Regions from separate parts of the Homo sapiens genome. Here regions 2, 3 and 4 are each reported to be linked to region 1. The links are microRNA targets in miRTarBase. Many come from high-throughput screens and were not tested one by one. Region 1 holds a microRNA gene; each other region holds the end of a gene's coding sequence.

What was found. Region 1 holds the annotated microRNA hsa-miR-6758-5p (UAGAGAGGGGAAGGAUGUGAUGU, at 2,837-2,859, opposite strand). A microRNA usually pairs through its seed, bases 2 to 8, with sites in the 3' UTR of a target mRNA and lowers its output. Matches are read on the target gene's strand: a 7mer-m8 pairs with bases 2 to 8, a 7mer-A1 pairs with bases 2 to 7 and ends in A, and an 8mer does both.
Region 2: the mRNA of HDGFL3 is a reported target of hsa-miR-6758-5p. Seed matches in the 3' UTR shown: 7mer-m8 at 761-767, 7mer-m8 at 1,032-1,038 and 8mer at 4,180-4,187.
Region 3: the mRNA of SLC25A28 is a reported target of hsa-miR-6758-5p. Seed matches in the 3' UTR shown: 7mer-m8 at 1,150-1,156.
Region 4: miRTarBase lists PALD1 as a target of hsa-miR-6758-5p. Seed matches in the 3' UTR shown: 7mer-m8 at 1,145-1,151 and 7mer-m8 at 2,361-2,367.

The regions. Positions count from the first base shown.
Region 1 is chr12:57,510,552-57,515,551 of GRCh38, reverse strand. MIR6758 (microRNA 6758) reads right to left here and starts at 2,864; the gene lies at 2,802-2,864. MARS1 (methionyl-tRNA synthetase 1) reads right to left here. Exons shown (of 21, transcript NM_004990.4): 12 at 3,684-3,854; 13 at 3,449-3,544; 14 at 3,199-3,316; 15 at 2,588-2,801; 16 at 701-832; 17 at 494-598; 18 at 216-402. It also overlaps the pseudogene LOC124903093.
Region 2 is chr15:83,134,885-83,139,884 of GRCh38, reverse strand. HDGFL3 (HDGF like 3) reads left to right here. Exons shown (of 6, transcript NM_016073.4): 6 at 610-5,000. The coding sequence ends at 615. It overlaps TM6SF1 (transmembrane 6 superfamily member 1), which reads right to left. Exons shown (of 10, transcript NM_023003.5): 10 at 2,477-3,404. The coding sequence ends at 3,213. Among named protein-coding and RNA genes, the nearest start is that of TM6SF1, 30 kb to the right of the region's middle.
Region 3 is chr10:99,606,505-99,611,767 of GRCh38, reverse strand. SLC25A28 (solute carrier family 25 member 28) reads left to right here. Exons shown (of 4, transcript NM_031212.4): 4 at 402-1,246. The coding sequence ends at 919. Among named protein-coding and RNA genes, the nearest start is that of SLC25A28, 11 kb to the left of the region's middle.
Region 4 is chr10:70,565,950-70,571,212 of GRCh38, forward strand. It overlaps PALD1 (phosphatase domain containing paladin 1), which reads left to right. Exons shown (of 20, transcript NM_014431.3): 20 at 632-2,501. The coding sequence ends at 784. Among named protein-coding and RNA genes, the nearest start is that of PRF1, 34 kb to the right of the region's middle.

The DNA of each region.
Region 1 (5,000 bases):
AGTTTTGTGTGCCAGGTTCTGGTTTCTGGCATGAAGAACAATGAAGATGTACAGATAATTCCGGACTTGTGAACGACTACCAAGGACTTTATATCAGAAACTTAGGAGTCCCATGACCAAAGTAACACTGGAGAGATGTTAGGTCTTCTCTCACCCACTCCAAAAGCTGCATGGCAAGAGTATCAATTTTAAGAGAGGCTGGCTCTTCCACCTACTGTGCCAATCTGGTGTCCTGCTGGTAAGGTACACAGGAAGTTTGTCAGCAGGATACTGCAGGCTGGAGGTGGGAGCTGCAGCTGGGCCTGGATTGTGGCACTAACCGTGGGCATGTAAGGCTGAAGCATGACAGAGAGCAAGGCAGCTATATTCACTGCCAAGCCAGTCACTGTTCCTGCCCGTTGCCTGAGGAAGAGGAGACATTAGTCAAGACCTCCAGGAGGATACAGCTTACAAGCCACTTTATGCCTTTAGCCAACCCTCCCCGCTTACCTACCTGTCAGCCTCACTGCCTTTAATCCGCTTCCAGGGCTCATTCACCTGAATATATTGGTTGCCATGTCGAGATATGGTGAGGATACTGCGCAAGGCATCCCGGATCCTGGGAAGGGAGGAAGCAGGCCAAGGTGTAATGTCCTACAGAGACCAATACAAGGAGGCTCTCAACATGCCAGCAGAAAAGACAGAGGTGTCAGTTACTTACCGAACCTTCTCAAGTAGCTGGTGATAGTGCTGGAGCTCCAGGGTGACATGGGCCAGCAGGCGCTGATCATCAGGGGTGAGCACCATCTCAGGCACATAGCCCCCAAAGAACTTAGACACAAACATCCCAGCTCTTGGTTGGGAGTAGGAAAGCAGAAGTGGAAAAAAGAGGGGAAGTTATTATCCCGTCTCCTTGTTAGAATTTCACCCAATTTCCACAGCTGTACATTCTCTCAGGATTCCTGCCTGGAACAGGTAACTCCTGGCTCCCTCAAGCTAGTAGACAAGGCCTAATTATTTACTCTTTCTCTCCCCTAAGAATCTGACTCTGCACATAAGAAACCTGATTAAGTTAAACAACTGTACCTCTTATTTTTAAGAAGTCATTACTCGGCCGGGCGCAGTGGCTCACGCCTAAAATCCCAGCACTCTGGGAGGCCGAGGTGGGCAGATCACCTGAGGTCAGAAGTTCAAGACCAGCCTGGCCTGGCCATGGTGAAACCTCGTCTCTACTAAAAATGCAAAAAATTAGCCGGGCGTGGTGGTGTGCACCTGTAATCCCAGCTACTCTGGAGGCTGAGGCAGGAGAATTGCTTGAACCCGGGAGGCGGAGGTTGCAGTGAGCCAAGATCGCGCCACTGCACTCCAGCCTGGGCAACAAGAGAGAAACTCCATCTCAAAAAAAAAAAAAAAAAGTCATTACTCAAAATGACCAAGCTGAGTATGTGTTAACTGCTATCAAACAAACACTCTAGGCAAGTACTTTTTTTTTTTTTTAATTTTTTTTTTTTTTGAGGATTCTCACTCTGTTGCCCAGGCTGGAGCACAGTGGCATGATCTTGGCTCACTGCAACCTTTGCCTCCCGGGTTCAAGTGATTCTCCTGCCTCAACCTCTTGAGTAGCTGGGATTACAGATGTGCGCCACCACGCCCGGCTACTTTTTGTATTTTTAGTGGAGACGGGGTTTCACCAGGTTGGCCAGGCTGGTCTCGAACTCCTGTAGGTAAGGACTATTTATTAAATGTGGTTAATTACCAAAGCTGAAAGTGAGTAGCAGGACTGACCTATAAGGGTCCAGGGCTCAGAGAGTGTGACTAAAGAATCCTAAATTCTGGAGAATACTGCTTTAGATTGCAGAAGAGCTGAGATAGGCACCAATGATAGAATGTGAGCCTAAGGTAACAAAAACTCTGAACTCTGAAGAGTATAGCAGAAGCCTTTTTTTTTTTTTTTTTTTGAGACAGGATCTCCCTCTTTTGCCAAGGCTGGAGTGTAGGGGTACGAGTACTGCTCCACTGCAGCCTCAATCTCCCAAGTTCAAGAGACCATCCCGCCTCAGCATCCTGAGTGGCTGGGACTACAGGTGTGCGCCACCACGCCTGGCTGATTCTTTTTGTAGAGATGGGAGATTCATTATGTTGGTCAGGCAAGTCTTGAACTCCCGGCCTCAAGTGATCCTCCTGCCTCAGCCTCCCAAAGTGCTGGGATTACAAATGTAAGCCACCATGCCCAGCCCACAGAAGCCTCCTACCCCCACACCAAAATAACCCCTTTCTTCAGCCAAACTTTTCAATGATCTGCAGGTGAACTATTTTGCTGGGAGAGAATACATCTTCAATTCTACAAAGAACAGTAATAAGGAAACAATTTACAAAAACCCACTTTATAACCAACTTTGCTAAATCACATCTCTACAGCTAACTGTTCCATCAAGCACACATAGCCTAGTATGTGCTAGGAACAGATCCCAATTAATAGAAATCAACTTTCCACAGTGTCCTCACAGCCTCCTGCCCATTTTCTAGTTCTCTCCACATTCCCATCTCCTGAGGGAAAATGAGCCCCACCCCAGCTCACTGCTAACTCTGACCCCTTACCAAGTCCTACCTGTTGATGAAGTTGCCCAGGTTGTTAAGCAGCTCAGAATTATTCTTCAGCAGCAGGTCCGTCCAGGAGAAAGCACTGTCCTGGCCCTCAGGCCGAATGTACAGCAGATAGAAGCGCCAGATGTCAGCAGGGATCCCCGTGTCCTGGGCCATGTCCCCAAACACTCCCACACCGCGGCTCTTAGAGAATTTCCCATCCTCATAGTTCAGGTACTCTGGACAGAGGAGAATGAGTGAGAACCATCTGCTCACATCACATCCTTCCCCTCTCTAGCCCACTAACTCTTCCTTCTTTCCTCTTTCTAACCTCAACTATGGGTGTCTAGCAACATTTCTCCTTAAGGGGCTGGTATGCTCAGATTTTGGGAGTCCCTTCCTATCCATTCTGGCCCTTTTTTCTCTTTGCTTATATCTACTAAAGAGTTTTAGCTTTAGACTTTTGCTTTCTTCAGGTTCTTGTTCGTTTCTCTAGGTTGAGTTCTCATTTTAATTATTTCCTATTTCAGCTCAACTCCTAACTCAAGATAGCAGCTCTCCAAGATCTTTTTCCAAGTACTGCCTCACCCCTCATTTCCTATGAACACCCCATCAGTAGTCTTCCAGGGTACTTACCTGTAGCAATGAGGTGGCTGACCAAGGTATAGTTATCCTCAGCTCCTAGGGCTGAGCAAGGAAAGACTAAGCTATGGAAAGGAACATTGTCTTTGGCCATGAACTGATACAGGTCCACCTAGGGGAATGTGGTTAGGAGAGATTTCCTGAGACCTCCTTCAAAGGCCCAAGGAAGACCAGACACCCAACCCTAACACCCACACCCTACCGCCTACCCTCCCCATGCACAGCCTAACCAAGAACTGCTCACTTGCTCTGGGTTCTTCCACCATCTCTCCCACTGGTCTGTGTAGTTGGCTGTGATGGACAGATAGCCAATAGTGGCATCAAACCAGACATAGAATACCTGGAGGTCAGAAGGAGGTAAACATGTTAGGGACCAATCCAAAGTCTCAAACTGAAACAAGACATAATCAGCAGTCTACTCTGCTAGCCCAGGGTTTCAACACTAAGGCTGAATGATATGAATAAAAAAGGGTTTTTACCTTGTCTTCAAAACCTTCTAAGGGTACAGGGGTTCCCCATTTGAGGTCTCGGGTTATGCAGCGTGGCTTGAGGCCATCCCGAAGCCAAGAACGGGTGATAAACTGGGCATTGGGTGTCCAGTCACTGCCAGGCAATGTCCTCCCCAACCACTCCTCCAGTCGCTTCTCCAGCTGAGATAACGGAGAAAGAGGGCTGATTTAGGAAAGTCTCATATATGGTTAGCATAAGGATAAACACATATAACCTTTTTGGAGCACAATTTGGCAATATATAACTTTTTTTTTGGAGACAGAGTCTTGCTCTGTTGCCCAGACTAGAGTGCAGTGGTGCAATCATAATCACAGCTCACTGCAGCCTAAACCTCCTGGGCTCAAGCAATCCTCCTACCTCAACCTCCCCAGTAGCTGGGACCACAGGTGCACACCACCATGCCAGACTGTAATTTTTGTAGAAACAGGGTTTTGCCACATTGCCCAGGCTGGTCTTGAACTCCTGAGCTCAAGCAATCTGCCCACCTCAGCCTCCAAAAGCGCTGAGACTACAGTTGTGAGCCACCCTGCCCAGCCTTAACTAGATTTTTAACACACAGCCAGGGGCAGTGGCTTGCGCCTGTAATCCCAGCTACTCCGAAGGCTGACGCAGGAGGATCACTTGAGGGCAGGAGTTCATGACCATCCTGGGCAACACAGCAAAATCCTGTCCCTAAAAAAAATTTTTTTTTTTTTAATTTTTAAAAATATGGAACACTTCACAAGTTTGCATGTCATTCTTGTGCAGAGGATGTGCTAATCTTGTCCATATCAGGGTCTCACTGTCACCCAGGCTGGAGTACAGTGGCACATCATGGCTCACTGCAGCCTCAACCTCCCAGGCTTAAGTGATCCTTCCACCTCAGCCTCCTGAGTAGCTGGCACTACAGGCACGTGCCACCACACCTGGTTAATTTTTGTATTTTTAGTAGAGATGGGTTTCACCAAGTTGCCCACCCTGGTCTCAAACTCCTGGGGTCAAGCAATTCTCCCGCCTCAGCCTCCCAAAGTGTTGGAAGTTGGAATTACAGGCATAAGCCACCGTGCCCAACCAATTTTTTCTTTTTTTAAATACAGACAGGGTCTTGCTTTGTTGCCCAGGCTACTCTCAAACTCCTGGCTTCCAGCGATCCTCCTGCCTCAGCCTCCCAAAGTGCTGGAATTACAGGCATGAACCACCATGGCCAGCTGAGGAAGTGCAAAAAAGAAAAAAAAAATTTTCTTTTTTTTTTTTAAGGTAGGGTGTCACTCTGTTGCCCAGGCTGGTCTTAAACTCCAAGGCTCAAG
Region 2 (5,000 bases), not on the chromosome of region 1:
AACAAATGTTTTATTTTCTGTTTGTCACACGGATGCCATCTAAATTTTAAAAGAAATCTAGGCTTCCTCTTATTCTTTATGTTTTTTTTAAAAGCAAGAAGTCAGAGACTTTGTACATCATGATTAACTTCTACATTTGTTTGAGCTATGTGTCACAAGTAATTAAGTTATAAATATTCTGAAGATTAATTGGTGCACACTCTAAGTGCTTTTTAAATTTTACACAGCTTACCTTTCTTTCTGAAGAATGTCCTCACAAAGATAGATTATATCAATTTCTCCACTGATGATGTATTCCAGCAATAAACATAGTCCTAGAATTGTAGAATGTGCACTGCTGCACTCTGTCCTAACAGACAGTAGACAAGGTTTATAATTTTTTTCTATGGGACACTAAAAATACCCTAGGATTTCCTTTAACTTTTTGCACTGACAGGTCTAAAGCAAAGCCACAGAAGCTGCTCTTGCTCAGTAAGTATTGTTAATGCTGCAGTGCATATTAAAATTTCAGAAAACCCAATTATGTACTATCTAGGTGTGGATAGCTCTCATTGTTAGTATCCTAAATCATCTAAAGGCTTGTTTTCTTTCTTTTTTTTTTTTTTACAGACCTAACTACCATAATGAATGCTGCATATTAAGAGAAACCACAAGAAGGTTATATGTTTGGTTGTCTAATATTCTTGGATTTGATATGAACCAACACATAGTCCTTGTTGTCATTGACAGAACCCCAGTTTGTATGTACATTATTCATATTCCTCTCTGTTGTGTTTCGGGGGGAAAAGACATTTTAGCCTTTTTTAAAAGTTACTGATTTAATTTCATGTTATTTGGTTGCATGAAGTTGCCCTTAACCACTAAGGATTATCAAGATTTTTGCGCAGACTTATACATGTCTAGGATCCTTTTATCAAGGCAGTTATGATCATCGTTTTCCTGCCTTGACCCCACCATCATCAAACACTCAGTTAAATATAAATTAACATTTTTTAGATGACCACTCAACATAATGCTTAAGAATGGAATTTCCTCTCTGTGACAGAACCCAGGAATTAATTCCTAAATACATAACGTTGGTATATTGAAGACGAAATTAAAATTGTCCTTCAGTTTTGAGGCCATGTGTAAAGTTTAACCATATTGTAAAATATCTATTCCGTATTAGAAATAGCTAGTTGACAGCTTATACTTCTCAAAATTCATATTGTTATGTACACAAACTAAGTTTCTATATGTGAAGTTAGTGAGTCTTTTTGTGTTACTCCAAAATAAAGGCAATGATTTATTTTTTTCCCAGTGCCAATACAATTTTGAGCTAAGCACTCAAGGTGGATACTTTACATTTTAAAGCTGGAATCAGCAACAGCCCTATGGGAAACCAGACAAAGCATTGACTTTTAAATGTAGACTTTTAAAATAAACTGTTTTCTTTTGGAACTACAATTAGAATAGTTAATATTCATCCTTAAACCATTATTATGTGTACATTATTGTTGCTATTGTGATAATAGAGAATTTTATTTATTTTTATGCCAGCTTATATTGTGAGAACACATTTAGTCAGTTTGGGTTTTATCAATCCTGTTAATGCTTGTCCTTGGAACATCTTTCGCGTATTCACGGTTTGTAGTTGAAAAGTTTACTGTAAAAAAATCAAAAACAAAAAAATGTATTGTTTTTACAGAATAAATTTATTGGAATGTGTACTGGGAGTAAGATTTGAGGTTGTAAGCAAACTAAGTTAGTGTAATTTGGCTTCATATATGTAACGTGAGGTATTAATGTAATTCATATATTAAAGCAAAAATTGTTCACAGCAAGCTGACAATAGAATCAAGTGCAGGTGAGGGTTTTTCTTTTTCTTTCTTTTTTTTTTTTTAAACACTCTCTGGGTTTTAGATTATTTGAAAACACTGTAGGGGATGATGGGGAGATGACTACATGATTTGCTTACACTTACATATTTACCAGCCCAGTGGACCCTAGATTTTGTAATTTGATATTATCCATGCATTGATTTGTATCCCATTTTCTTTTGGTTTTCTTGATGAGAGCTAATAAAAACATGAGAAAATGTGAGCAGACCTAAAAGCCTAGGGCCGTTAATAATGATGATGGTGATGATGGCAGCTAAGGGTATGAAAGCACCAGTCCATTTATCATTCCAGGGCACAGTGAGGAGGTGGCTGTTTGTATTTTTGGTGTGTTTCTTTCATTTAGTGAATACTGATTTTCTCTAGTATACTCAACATACAATCCCAAACATGAAAAGTTCATAAAAAGATAGTAGGGATGTCGATCTAATACTTCTTCCTTAAAAGGTCCTTTTTAATTTTGAATATTTGAATGTATTTTTTAATTAATGAAATTTAATTCATCAAAAGACCTCTTCATTGCTCACACTGAAACATAAGGGGAATGTAGATGGCATTTTGAATTGGAATATACAACTCACAAATTTTCTTTAAAAGCGTTTTATGTGTATATATGAAATGTTTCAAATTTAATAAGATTTGTCTTTATAAGAGGCCAAAAATAATTTTATTAAAAATATACACAGAAATACAATAGAAATATTTCCAGCCACCAATAAAACAAATGTTCATTAAGGATAGAGATAAAGTTACTGATCCCTATTTAGCTGTTTAAATTCACACAAAAAAATTTAGTAAAAGTAATTTTCTTGAAACAGCAGCAAATAATAAACTTTCCTTGGGAAAACATTTTTCAAACAACATTTAAAAATATTCTGATGATTTGCCTTTTATATTGAGTTTAATAATGAAGCATATTCATCTTATTTGCAAAAGTTACTCCTCCAGTCTGCATTCACTGTTTTGAATTTTTTAATATGCACAGGCCATATTCTCTTTTGAATAGTTTCATTTCATGCTCACTACTGTTGGCACTAAATTGTAATTTTTTACACTTATAATTATTTTATATGTCAAACAATATTGAGATGGATGATCAAGTTTATTCACAAATGATTTTGAATATATTTCTTTAAACAAACTGTTTCTCAAGAATTTCCATTTTCCTTCAAAAAAAATTTACACAATACCATATAGCTCACACATACAGTGCAGAGCAAGAATGTACATATTCTTAAGTACTCACGTATGAGAAGAGAGTGAAATGGGACAAAATATCAGTACCAGTATAACAAAAGTTAGTAATTTAGAAAGGAGGAACATGAAGTAATATTTTTATTCCACTTTTTCTTCTGCCTTTGTTTTTATGAAGAACTCTGGTTTGTAGATACAACGATAGGCCAAGAGCTGAGGAAGAACTCCATATGCTATGTTTAATGCTAAAAAAAGGATTTTTGCTTCTTCAGGGACTCTGTAGACATAAGCAGTTCTAGCATGAAGAGATGCACCAATGTGAGAAAACTGAGCCTGTTGCATTTAAAAAAAAAAAATTGAGTAAGCATGAAACGTGTTCAGTTGGATGCATGATGAGTTCTGAATGGTTCATTCAGGCTACGTTTCTGTGCCCTCAAAACCAGTCTCACCTGCAGGCAAAATACCTTCAAACAATCCAGAGTCTTTAATGTCAGAGTCTTTCATTAAATTTAGTCCTTGATTAAATTTAGGGCCATTCTTGATATGACTGTTCAAATAAAGTAGATATTATTTAGTGTAGTTTTATCATGCCAGTTGTGTTTTTTAACCATCAAGTGCCCCTTACCGAACATTAGTGGCTCAATCTAATAGAAAAATCTGAATAAAATCTCAAATTTTTTTCTGATTTGCGTTCTGGAGATCCTGCATACAGACTCAGTTGTGGTTCACAAATTGCGTTCCAATAAAAATGAAGAAAGCGCAGAGTTTTAAAAAACAAATATTTTTAGCATAAACTATTGAAAGGGAAGCACTGGGGGGACCTCAGCTTCATTTATCAGTCTTTCATCTACTCCTTGCAGCAAGAGCTCATACCCTTTCCCTATGTGTTTTTTGTTTATTCATTTATTCATGTATTTGTTTTTTCTGCAGCTTTTAAAATATTAAGGGTTGTTTGTAAGATAAGGTTGTTACCAACTTGGGTGGAGGTAGGAGTACGGTTGCTCTTTGTAAAATGGCAAATGTACATGCAGGCAACCTTTTTAAATCAAATTATAATTTATTTAGAAGTACGACATGTCAGCATTATCCGCATTTGCAAAATGGCCTCCCTCTCTACTTATATACTTATTCAGAAAACACATTCAGAATGTGCCAATTGGTCTTTTTTGATATTTTTCGCAAGCACAGAGGAAAACCGTATTGGAAAGGGTAAAACAGACCACAGCAGGATTAAAAGCTCCTGTCAGAAAATTTCCTCAGAAGGCTTGTATCATTACAAAATGTACCCCTGGAGTCTGCATTTTCATATCTTGCTGAAATTCAAGATACACATGAATAAAGGATTGGGAATCTAAATGTAATAAGTAGTAAATTATCAGTTCATCAGGATCAAAGAGACAAAAGACTGCACTATAGAGAAGGCATAGAAGTAACAAGAATGAAGAACTAGATAATTTGCTTTAAATACATATAAGTTATTTTACATTTCTTCCATATGAAACCAATTTATTCTGCTGAGTGATTTCACAGATAAAGGTGTTACTTACTTGACTTCACCATGACAAGAAAAGGACAAGTTTTTTTAAGCAGCATCTTTATGAATTTTTTATCAGTGGCAGATATTTTAATGGGCTGCATTTTTACAAATTCCTGATATATTCTGGAGACCTGTGGTACATTTTTGCTACTCTGGAGATATAAATTAAATTAGCATGATGTATTGCCAAGGACCAGCACGTGGATTGTCTACATTGTGATCCATGAGGCACTGAGAGGACTCGGCCCTCAGATACAACTCCCCTGGGTAGATGCCCAGGCAGAACCCAGCAAATGTATATGCATCTCTGGGCTCTGAGGACAAAATGCCTTGAGAGTAAAGGGCACTTTCAGGGCTGCCCTGAGGAGGTGCTTTCTGGACATTCTAGGAAC
Region 3 (5,263 bases), not on the chromosome of region 1:
GAGGATTGGGATTGTTAGGGGCCTGTGTTCGTGATGATCACTATCATGGAGTCATTTCTTGTTGGGAATTGTTAGAGGGTAAGATCAGAGATAGGTACTTAGTTCAAGAAGACTCTCTGAAGCTCCCAAACTGTAGATATGTCCTGTGTGCGAACTGGCTGGCTTTACAGAAGTCCTGATGGAAGTGGGTTTATTGTTTTTTGACTCGTTACCAACCCTCTGCTTACTCCTTCCCCTCAAAAAAGGGAAGCTGACTTCTCAGGTTAGCCAGCAGCTCACTCATACTTTTTTCTCTCTCTATTCCATTGGCTGATCTGCTGACTTGGGGCTCTGAATCTGGATACTCTCCATCACCGGTTGGCTGCTGTCACCATTTCCTTCCTCGTTGATGGCACTACTAGTGGTCAAGCAGAGGATGCAGATGTACAACTCACCATACCACCGGGTGACAGACTGTGTACGGGCAGTGTGGCAAAATGAAGGGGCCGGGGCCTTTTACCGCAGCTACACCACCCAGCTGACCATGAACGTTCCTTTCCAAGCCATTCACTTCATGACCTATGAATTCCTGCAGGAGCACTTTAACCCCCAGAGACGGTACAACCCAAGCTCCCACGTCCTCTCTGGAGCTTGCGCAGGAGCTGTAGCTGCCGCAGCCACAACCCCACTGGACGTTTGCAAAACACTGCTCAACACCCAGGAGTCCTTGGCTTTGAACTCACACATTACAGGACATATCACAGGCATGGCTAGTGCCTTCAGGACGGTATATCAAGTAGGTGGGGTGACCGCCTATTTCCGAGGGGTGCAGGCCAGAGTAATTTACCAGATCCCCTCCACAGCCATCGCATGGTCTGTGTATGAGTTCTTCAAATACCTAATCACTAAAAGGCAAGAAGAGTGGAGGGCTGGCAAGTGAAGTAGCACTGAACGAAGCCAGGGGTTCAGATGACACTGCTGCATCCTGGTCACATTCTCTGTCTCCTGGAATGCTCCCACCTCAAGTGGAGTTAGAAGGAAGGTAGAGGGGCTCTCCCCCAGGATTTTGGTGTTTTGACTAACACCAGTTCCTGCCAACCTCTGTTGCCACCACCTTTCCTTCCAGGCCCTAAGCACGTGCAGCAAAGCACACCACAGCACCTTTGATAACCTCTCTCCATCCTGGGCCTGATGACCTGCTCTAGACTGTTATAGAGGGATAAGCAGCTCATTCCCCTGGTTCCTAATAAAAAGCCTTTAAATTAAATGGTTTCATTGGGTTTGTCTTGCTAAAGGGGAAGTGAAATGCTGTTAACTGTTCTTGACTTTCCTTTAAGCATAAATCAAGGGACCCAAAGGAAAGGTTTATTGAGTATGTCTGTAGTTTTCTGCTGATTTTCATGACAATTTAAGACATTAGTGGTAGGCCCCAAGCAATCTCCCTGATGGCTAGAACAACAAGCCCTTGACAGATCCCAACCAATCAGATGCTCCAGATCCCCACTGTCTTCCCTAGGGCGGTAGCGCAGCACAGAAGGGGCAGATCTCTGCTCTAATTCGCAGCTCTGCCTGCAGCAGTGCTTTACAGTGTGGCACTTGGTTTTCCATTTTAGTTGTGAAACTCAAATTATTCAGTGAAGCTGCAAGTCCTGAAGATTACATGGTAAATAATACATTTCATTTTATTTTAAGGCTTTCACAGAGTACTTGAGCATGTGTGATCTCATTTGAACCTCACAAAATCTCTGAAGTAGGCAGTGCAGGTGTCATTTGTATTTCACAAGCAAGAAAGCTCAGAGGCTGTGACTAGTCCAAAGTCTCACAGTCAGTGCAGAAGTGGGACCCCAGCCCAAGTGTTTTGACCTCACGAATGAATCTAAGCGTGGCTTCCTACAGATGGGAAATGAGTGGAGGGCATCTCACATCTACTGCCATCTACTGAGGAAGCTCCCTGCCTGATGACCAGTTAGGCTCTGCTTGGAGACTTTTCAGAGATGGGGCTTTCCCTGTGCTTGGTGGGTCAGTGTGTTCCTTTTTTTTTTTTTTTTTTTTTTTTTTTTTTTTATATATCACCAGTTATTAGCAAGTTCTTCAGTACATAGAAATGTACCCCTCTGAGTCTTCCACCTATCCTTGTTAGGTCATCTGTCATTCATTCATTAACTATTGAGTGTCTCTGTGGCAAGCACTGGTGTTGGAAATACAATGATAGATAAAAACAATCCCAGCCCTCAAGGAGCTTACTGTCTGGAGAGGAAGATACATGGAAACAGGCAATTACAAAACAAAATGACAGGAGAGAAGATAGAATAAACCTAGGATACTCAGAAGACAGAAGGATACCCAGCGTAGCCTTGGGTGACCAGGGTAGACATTTGGAGGAAGTAACATCTGAGGTGACACCTGGAAGGCAAATGAGCTAACTTGGTGAAGAGGGGAGGGGTTATGTTCTAGGCAAAGACCTGGAGGTAAGAGAATTAAAAAGTATTTGGGATTTGGTGTGCAAGTGGTTTGGTAGGACTGAAACAATCTGGGCAAGACATGCAGCCTGAGAGCCAAGCAGACACTGGGTCTTCAAAGCGATGCTATGGAGTTTAGATTTATCCTGAAGGCCATGCAAAAGCATTACGGAGTTTTAAGCAGAGGTGTGGTGTGATCAGATTTACAATTTAAACAGATCACTTAGGCTCTCTGGAGAAAGGATTAGAGGAGCAAGACTGGACAGGCAGGCCAACTGGTTAGGAGGCTGCTGTGGTAATCCAGGCAAGTGCATGGTGGTCTGAAGCAGGACTGTGGCATGGAGCCGGGAGCCATGTTAGGGTTGTAGAAGCAATAGGATTCGGTCACAGAGTAGATCTCGTCCTCCTCCCATCTGACAGCCCTTCAATATCTATGGAGAATCATGTCTGAATGCACTTGAAAAAAAACTGTCGAGAAACCAGCAGGGTCTCCTAAGCTTTATTTAAGTAGGCTATGCTGCCCCTCTGATTTAGCGTGGAGAGGAGAGATTAATAGTGCTAAGCGGTGGTTGCTGAGTAAAAAGAGTGTGATGATATCATTGTAAAGGTCATTTCAGAGGGTTTGCTAGTAAAAATGTAATTGAGTAGCTGCCTCCCATATGGACTGAGCAAGAGAGCAAAGGGATGGCTGTCAGGACCTAGTCTCTGCGGTCGGCTTTACAGAGCTGTCTGGCATGGTATCTGACACACAGTAGGCACAATGGCAATAAGGCTTATTTTTCAAGAATGGATTGCGGGGTAATTTCTTAAAGATTGGTAGCGGCTAGAGACCACCTCAGCTCTAATGCTGTTCACAAATAATGAGAAAAGAATACAAAAGTGATCTTCCAGCCTCCAGTTGTGCTGTAGCTACTGGAGGACATTTAGTTTGGAATCTGGACAGGACACTAGGTTCTGCAGGTCTCTTGGCCCAGTCACTAGAGGTCAAAGGGGAGATAGAGGCAGAATAATGTGACAGGTTGAACATTAGCAATGCCAGTGACTGGATACCTGGGTCATTTCCAAGGGGCTCAGCAGACCCAGGAGAACTGTGGGTGTTTGGGGGCATCCCCAGGTCCAGAGCCTCTGTGGAGAGCCAGGTAGTTCATGTGACACCTGGAGAATCCAGTACCAAGCCATCATCAAGTGGCCAATTCCTGCACAGTGCTATGTGTCAGGGAAAATGAGAAAATAAGTCACAATTTGGCCAGAGGAAAATGTTCTTCATTGGAGAGCTGAGACCAACATGAGTGAAACAAACTTTTAATAACACAAGACACTATATAGACATGTACTGGATTATACAGAAATTAACAATGAGATTTAGAGACAGGAAAGATAAGTGTAGGCAGAGTAAACAGAGAAGAAGGTGGCTTTGATGAATAGAATTAAAAAATACTTTCGTAAAAGCCAATAAATGTTGAATCATGCTAATTTCATAAAATTTAGAAAGCACAGATAAAAAGAAAATACTTCGAATCCCATTACCCAGAGAACTTGACCTTCTAACAGACAGAGCTTTGCAGCAATGACACGGATAGCATTGCACAGCAGCGAGCTCTAAAATACAGGAGCTGGGGCTGGTCAGCCCTGCCAGGGATGCTATACAGTGAAGTCGAACTCCTGGAGGGTTGCAAAGCAAGATGACCTCTAAGAAGCCTCCTAGATCTAGATGTTCTCAGGGCCAGCCTCAGCCCCACTATCCGGTAACCTGCGTCCTGGTCTCCAGGCCGGATATCTTCAATGCCTGTCAGGAGATGGTGCCAGACTGTCTCACCACTCTGAACTTTCTCTCTCCACCAACCTATCTATCCTCCTTTTGATCATTCAGATTCTACCTACCCATAGCAATGTTTCTGATATTATAAAGGTGCCACAGGGGGCCGGGCATGGTGGCTCGAGCCTGTAATCCCAGCACTTTGAGAGGCCAAGGCAGGCAGATCACTTGAGCCCAGGAGTTCGAGACCAGCCTGGCCAATATAGTGAAACCCCATTTCTACTAAAAATACAAAAATTAGCCAGGGTGGTGGCATGCACCTGTAGTCCCAGCTACTCGGGAGGCTGAGGCACAAGAATCACTTGAACCTAGGAGGCAAAGGTTGTAGTGAGCCAAGATGGTGCCACTGCACTCCAGCCTGGGTGACAGATCAAGACTCTGTCTCAAAAAAAAAAAAAAAAAAGTGCCACAGGGGACTTATTGAATAAGCTATTGATATTATTGAACATTCATACAATGAAATGTGGCATGCCATTTATACTGAGATGATGGAAGAAAATTTAATGATGCGGAAAGATAGACACTGTATTCTGTTATGTGAAAGAAATTGGTTATAGTGAGATCTCATTTTTGAAAATTACAAAAAAATTATACATAGAAAAAATACTTAATGATATATACATCAACCTACTGGATGTGCAGTATTTTGTTATTTCCTGGAATCTTAGACTGGTAAGTGGAGAACAAGTTCTGTTGGAGTCACACACAGTATTCCCTTTATTGCCACCACCGCCACCACCACCTCTGCCACCCTAAGTAGAATGGAAAATGTTTACACTTCGAGGCACTTAAATCTTTCTGTAATTTCCACCTGTGATAGTACCTTCTGCTTGCTGGGGCAGCACAGAATCAGACTAATCCTTCTCTCTGACAGCCCTTCAAAAATATTAAGACAGCTGTCATATCACCCTGGGAGGGGTCAGAGCATGGAGATCCTGAAAGCTAGGCAAAAGAGTTTAGACTTGCCTTGGCAGCTAATGAGGAGCTCTTGTGGTTCTTGAGCAGGTGG
Region 4 (5,263 bases), not on the chromosome of region 1:
GTGGGTTCCAGCCTCGGGACCTCAGCCCCTCTCTCCTGCGGATGAGTGGAGGGTAGCAGTGAGGGAGGCCCCAGAGCGGGACGGACCCATTCCTTTGTTCTAAGTGGAGGCTGCACCCTCCCCTTCCCCAGGATGGTGGAGAGAGAAGGGGACTGGTTGTGGATGGTTTGAGTCTGGTGCCAGGGTCTGGGCTGCTGGGCGGCAGGGCTGAGTGTCCAGGGGTGCCTCCAGCTAGCCCACCTGGGGCAGAGGCCATAGCCTTACCTGCCCCTGCATCCACGTTCTTCCTCCAGCCCTCCCTTTAGGCCCTGCTCCTGGGCGTCCACGTGGGAGCATCGAGCTGCACAGGGCCCAGTGTGTGCCTGGCCTCCCTCGCTGCTATCTGTGTGGAGCACTCACTGTCTGCCCAGTACTTTCTGTATGTGTAGAGTCCTCCTTGAGACAGTCCTGTGAGGTAGAGTCTTTTCCTTGCTATGAGGAAACTGACGCTCAGAGAAGTTAACAGAAGTCAAGGTGCAAACTTGTTCAGGTCACCAAGTTCACAGGCCACAGACTCATCTTCAGAACTCAGTGGCCTTAGTGGCACCCTCCCTCCCCTGAAACACTGCTCCTGCCTCTGCTCTCCTCCCAGGTGGCATCGAAGGCTGGCATCTACGAGATCCTTAACGAGCTGGGCTTCCCCGAGCTGGAGAGCGGGGAGGACCAGCCCTTCTCCAGGCTGCGCTACCGGTGGCAGGAGCAGAGCTGCAGCCTCGAGCCCTCTGCCCCCGAGGACTTGCTGTAGGGGGCCTTACTCCCTGTCCCCCCACCCACAGGGCCCCACGCAGGCCTGGGGTGTCTGAGGTGCTCTTGGCTGGGAGCGGCCCTGAGGGGTGCTGGCCTTGAAATGATTCCCCCACTTCCTGGAGAGACTGAGCGGAGTTGGGAGCCTTTTTAGAAAGAACTTTTTATAGGACAGGGAGACAGCACAGCCATCCCTTGCAAACCACCAAGGTGTGTGGCTGACCTCCAGGGAGGAGCACTCACTGGAGTGCTCACAAGGTGCACACTGCTGTGTGTACCTTGCAGACAGGCCGGCGTTCAGCCTCCAAGGGGCTCACTCCCCCAGTTGCCAAACACTGTGGATCTCTCTGTCCTCTTCTCCCCTCTCTCAGATTGGCCTGGCAGCCCCTGGCACAGAGCAGACCCGGCCACTGGTAGCTCCCCACTTCCTTACTCCTGCTGCTCTGCCATTGCCGCTCCCCTTGTTGCTGCCCAAGCACTGCCCTCGGGCGTCTGGCAGCCTGAGGTGGGTGGAGGGGACAGTGTTCTGGATAGATCTATTATGTGAAAGGCAGCTTCACCCAGTTTTCTGGACTCTCATGCCCCCATCTCCGACCTGGGAGACTTCAGGAATGACAACCTACCCAGCCTGGTGGGGCTGGCAGGATGGTGGAGGTTTCTCAAGGAGCTGGAGACTTCAGGGAGCCCCTCTCATGGGGAGGAAAGAGCTTCCAGGGGGCGAACGCAGCACAGAGGAAGAGGCCTGCTCCACTTGTCTGGGAACCTGGGCAGGAGGCACAGAGGAAGCCAAGGCCTGGAGCTGCAGGTCCCCCGGCATCTCTCTCTGTCCCGGCAGCCCAGGATGGCCTGGTGCCCCCACCTGCTGCAGCAGGAGCCCCAAGGAGTGCTAGCTGAGGGTGGTTGCTGGGGTGGTCCTCATGGACAGTGAGGTGTGCAAGGGTGCACTGAGGGTGGTGGGAGGGGATCACCTGGGTTCCAGGCCATCCTTGCTGAGCATCTTTGAGCCTGCCTTCCGGTGGGAGCAGAAAAGGCCAGACCCTGCTGAGTTAGAGGCTGCTGGGATCCACTGTTTCCACACAGCGGGAAGGCTGCTGGGAACAGGTGGCAGAGAAGTGCCATGTTTGCGTTGAGCCTTGCAGCTCTTCCAGCTGGGGACTGGTGCTTGCTGAAACCCAGGAGCTGAACAGTGAGGAGGCTGTCCACCTTGCTTGGCTCACTGGGACCAGGAAAGCCTGTCTTTGGTTAGGCTCGTGTACTTCTGCAGGAAAAAAAAAAAAGGATGTGTCATTGGTCATGATATTTGAAAAGGGGAGGAGGCCGAAGTTGTTCCCATTTATCCAGTATTGGAAAATATTTGACCCCCTTGGCTGAATTCTTTTGCAGAACTACTGTGTGTCTGTTCACTACCTTTTCAGGTTTATTGTTTTTATTTTTGCATGAATTAAGACGTTTTAATTTCTTTGCAGACAAGGTCTAGATGCGGAGTCAGAGATGGGACTGAATGGGGAGGGATCCTTTGTGTTCTCATGGTTGGCTCTGACTTTCAGCTGTGTTGGGACCACTGGCTGATCACATCACCTCTCTGCCTCAGTTTCCCCATCTGTAAAATGGGAGAATAATACTTGCCTACCTACCTCACAGGGGTGTTGTGAGGATTCATTTGTGATTTTTTTTTTTTTTGTACAGAGCTTTTAAGCATTAAAAACAGCTAAATGTGAGTGCACCTGGCTGCTAATATGTCTTTAGTGTCAGACAGACGTTCTAGAACTGGTACAACAGGCTGAGGTCCCTGCCCCTTCAGAGTAAGGGTGGGCAGGCAGAGTGAGTTGAGAGCACCTGTTCTTGGCACTTCCAGCTCTAGAGCAGGCGGGTTTTTGCAGACACGCATCCCCAGTTTTGCCTCACCCTCTTACACTGGATGTCAGGCTGAGCTCCTCCTTGAAGAAAGCAACGGAACCAGCGAATTCTCACTAACATATGAAGGATTGCTGCATCTAGGGAAACAGTATAGAGCAAAGTGGAATTGGGGGCCTGTGAAGGAGCCTGGATCTCAGCCTCCACTTTCTCCCCTAACCCCTGTGGGCCCCACCTGACCCCTTTGGGCCTCTGGTTGATTGAACACACCTCACCCCTGGTTGAGTGCTGGCATTTAAAGAGTCAGTGGGGAGGGTGGGGTAGAGACAGCACTGACTCCAGGCCTCTTCCCCCATGCTTGCAGGGTTAGGGGAACAAGGTTGTAGTTCCGAGGTCAGCTGGGGTGGGCAGAATGGAACCCAGAGCCCCCACCGCCCCTAGGGTTGGTGTTCTCCCCAGACTAGGAGAGAAGGCCCCGGGGGTTCTTTCCCAGCCCAGCAGGGTATGGAAGTTGTCTTCTCTAGGTGCAAGAATGCTCTGTGTGGCTTCTGGACACCAGTGTAGAGCTGTGTACACCGGGGTGGGGTGGAGGGGGGTGGGGGTGGGGGTGGCTCTGCCATTCTCTCCCTGGGATGTGGGGACACACAGGAGTGAGTGGGTGTGCCTGTGTGTGTTCCCAAGTTCCCCTGGGCCTGCTGTAGCCTGTGGGAGGACGCTTAGCAATGACATGAATGGCACTGACCCACATTTCAGTAGCTCCTGCTGGTCAGCAGCATCTCAGCCCTCATGGTAAATGAGTGAACCCAGCACAGCAAAGGAGCAATCAGCAGAGTTAGGGAGCCTACCGAATAGGAGACGGCATTTGCAAACCATCCATCTGATAAGGGGTTAGTATCCCAAATCCATAGGAAACCCAAACAATACAATAGTAAAAAGCAAGTAACTCAAAAGAACACACACAAATGACCCACAGGCATATGAAAGAAATGTCCGGTATCACTAATCACCAGGGAAAGGCAATGGAAACCACCTCACACCTGTTAGGATGGCTGCAGGAAGAGACAGAAGAGAAGTGCTGGCGAGGATGTGGAGACAGGAAACCCTCGCACCCTGTTGGTGGTATTGTCGGTTAGTATACACGTTCTGGAAAACACTGGGGTGGGGGGTCCTCAGAAAACCAAAAATAGGACTGTGTATGATCCAGCCATCCCACTCCTGGGTACACATGCAAAGGAAATGGAATCCGTGTGTCAGAGAGGTGTCTGCACCCCATGTTCACTGCAGCATTATTCACAGTAGCCAAGACATGGGATCAGTGTGTTCATCAGTGGATGAATGGATAAAGAAAATGTGGTCTGTATACAATGGGATACTATTCAGCCTTTAAAAAGGAAATCCTGGCCAGGCGCAATGGCTCACGCCTGTAATCCCAGCACTTTGGGAGGCCGAGGTGAGTGGATCACTTGAGGTCAGGAGTTCGAGACCAGCCTGCTCAACATGGTGAAACCTGAAACCCCGTCTCTACTTAAAATACAAAAATTAGCCAGATATGGTGGTAGGTGCCTGTAATCCCAGCTACTTGGGAGGCTGAGGCAGGAGAATCACTTGAACCTGGGATGTGGAGGTTGCAGTGAGCTGAGATCACGCCACTGCACTCCAGCCTGGGCCATGGAGCAAAACTCCATCTCAAAAAAAAAAAAAAAAAAAAAAATCCTGTCATTTGTGACAACATGAGTGAACCTGGGGAACACTATCCTGAGTGAAATAAGCCAGGCACAAAAAGACAAGTATCACATGATCTCATATGTGGAGTCTAAAAAAATCCAACTCAGAGTAACATGGTGGTTACCAGAGGCTGGGGTGGAATGGGGTGAGGTTGGGGAGATGTTGGTCAAAGTTCACAGCATTTCGGTTAGAGTAAGTTCAAGGGATCTATTGTATATCATGCTTACTACAGTTGATAACAATGTTGTGTATTTGAAAATTGCAGAGAGAAGATTTTAAGTGTTCTCGTAACTTGGTAGCTATGTGTCACCAAATGATAAGTATGTGAGGTAAGGTGTATGTTAAATATCTTGACTTAGCCACTTCACAACGTATATATACCTCAAGACATCCTTTTGTACACCGTAAACATATACAACTTAGCAGCTCATTTTAAGAAAGTACCATTTAGTCTGATCTTTCCTCTGTGTTAATCTAAACTAGTGATTTTTTTTTTTTTTCGATGAAATCTTTTTCTGTCGCCCAGGCTGGAGTCCAGTGGCGCGATCTTGGCTCGCTGCAACCTCCACCTCCTGGGTTCAAGCGATTCTCCGGCCTCAGCCTCCCAAGCAGCTGGGATTTTAGGCACGCATCACCACACCCAGCTAATTTTTGTATTTTTAATAGAGACAAGGTTTCGCCATGTTGGCCAGACTGGTCTCAAACTCCTGACCTCAGGTGATCCACCTGCTTTGGCCTCCCAAAGTGCTGGGATTACAGGTGTCAGCCACTGCGCCTGGCCACTAGTGATGTTTTGATACATTCTTTGTTATGTCTCTTTCTTAAATACCAGTACATATTGCTGAATTATAATATTAAAAAACGAGTTAATATACATGCAACCTTTAGGACAGTGCCTGAC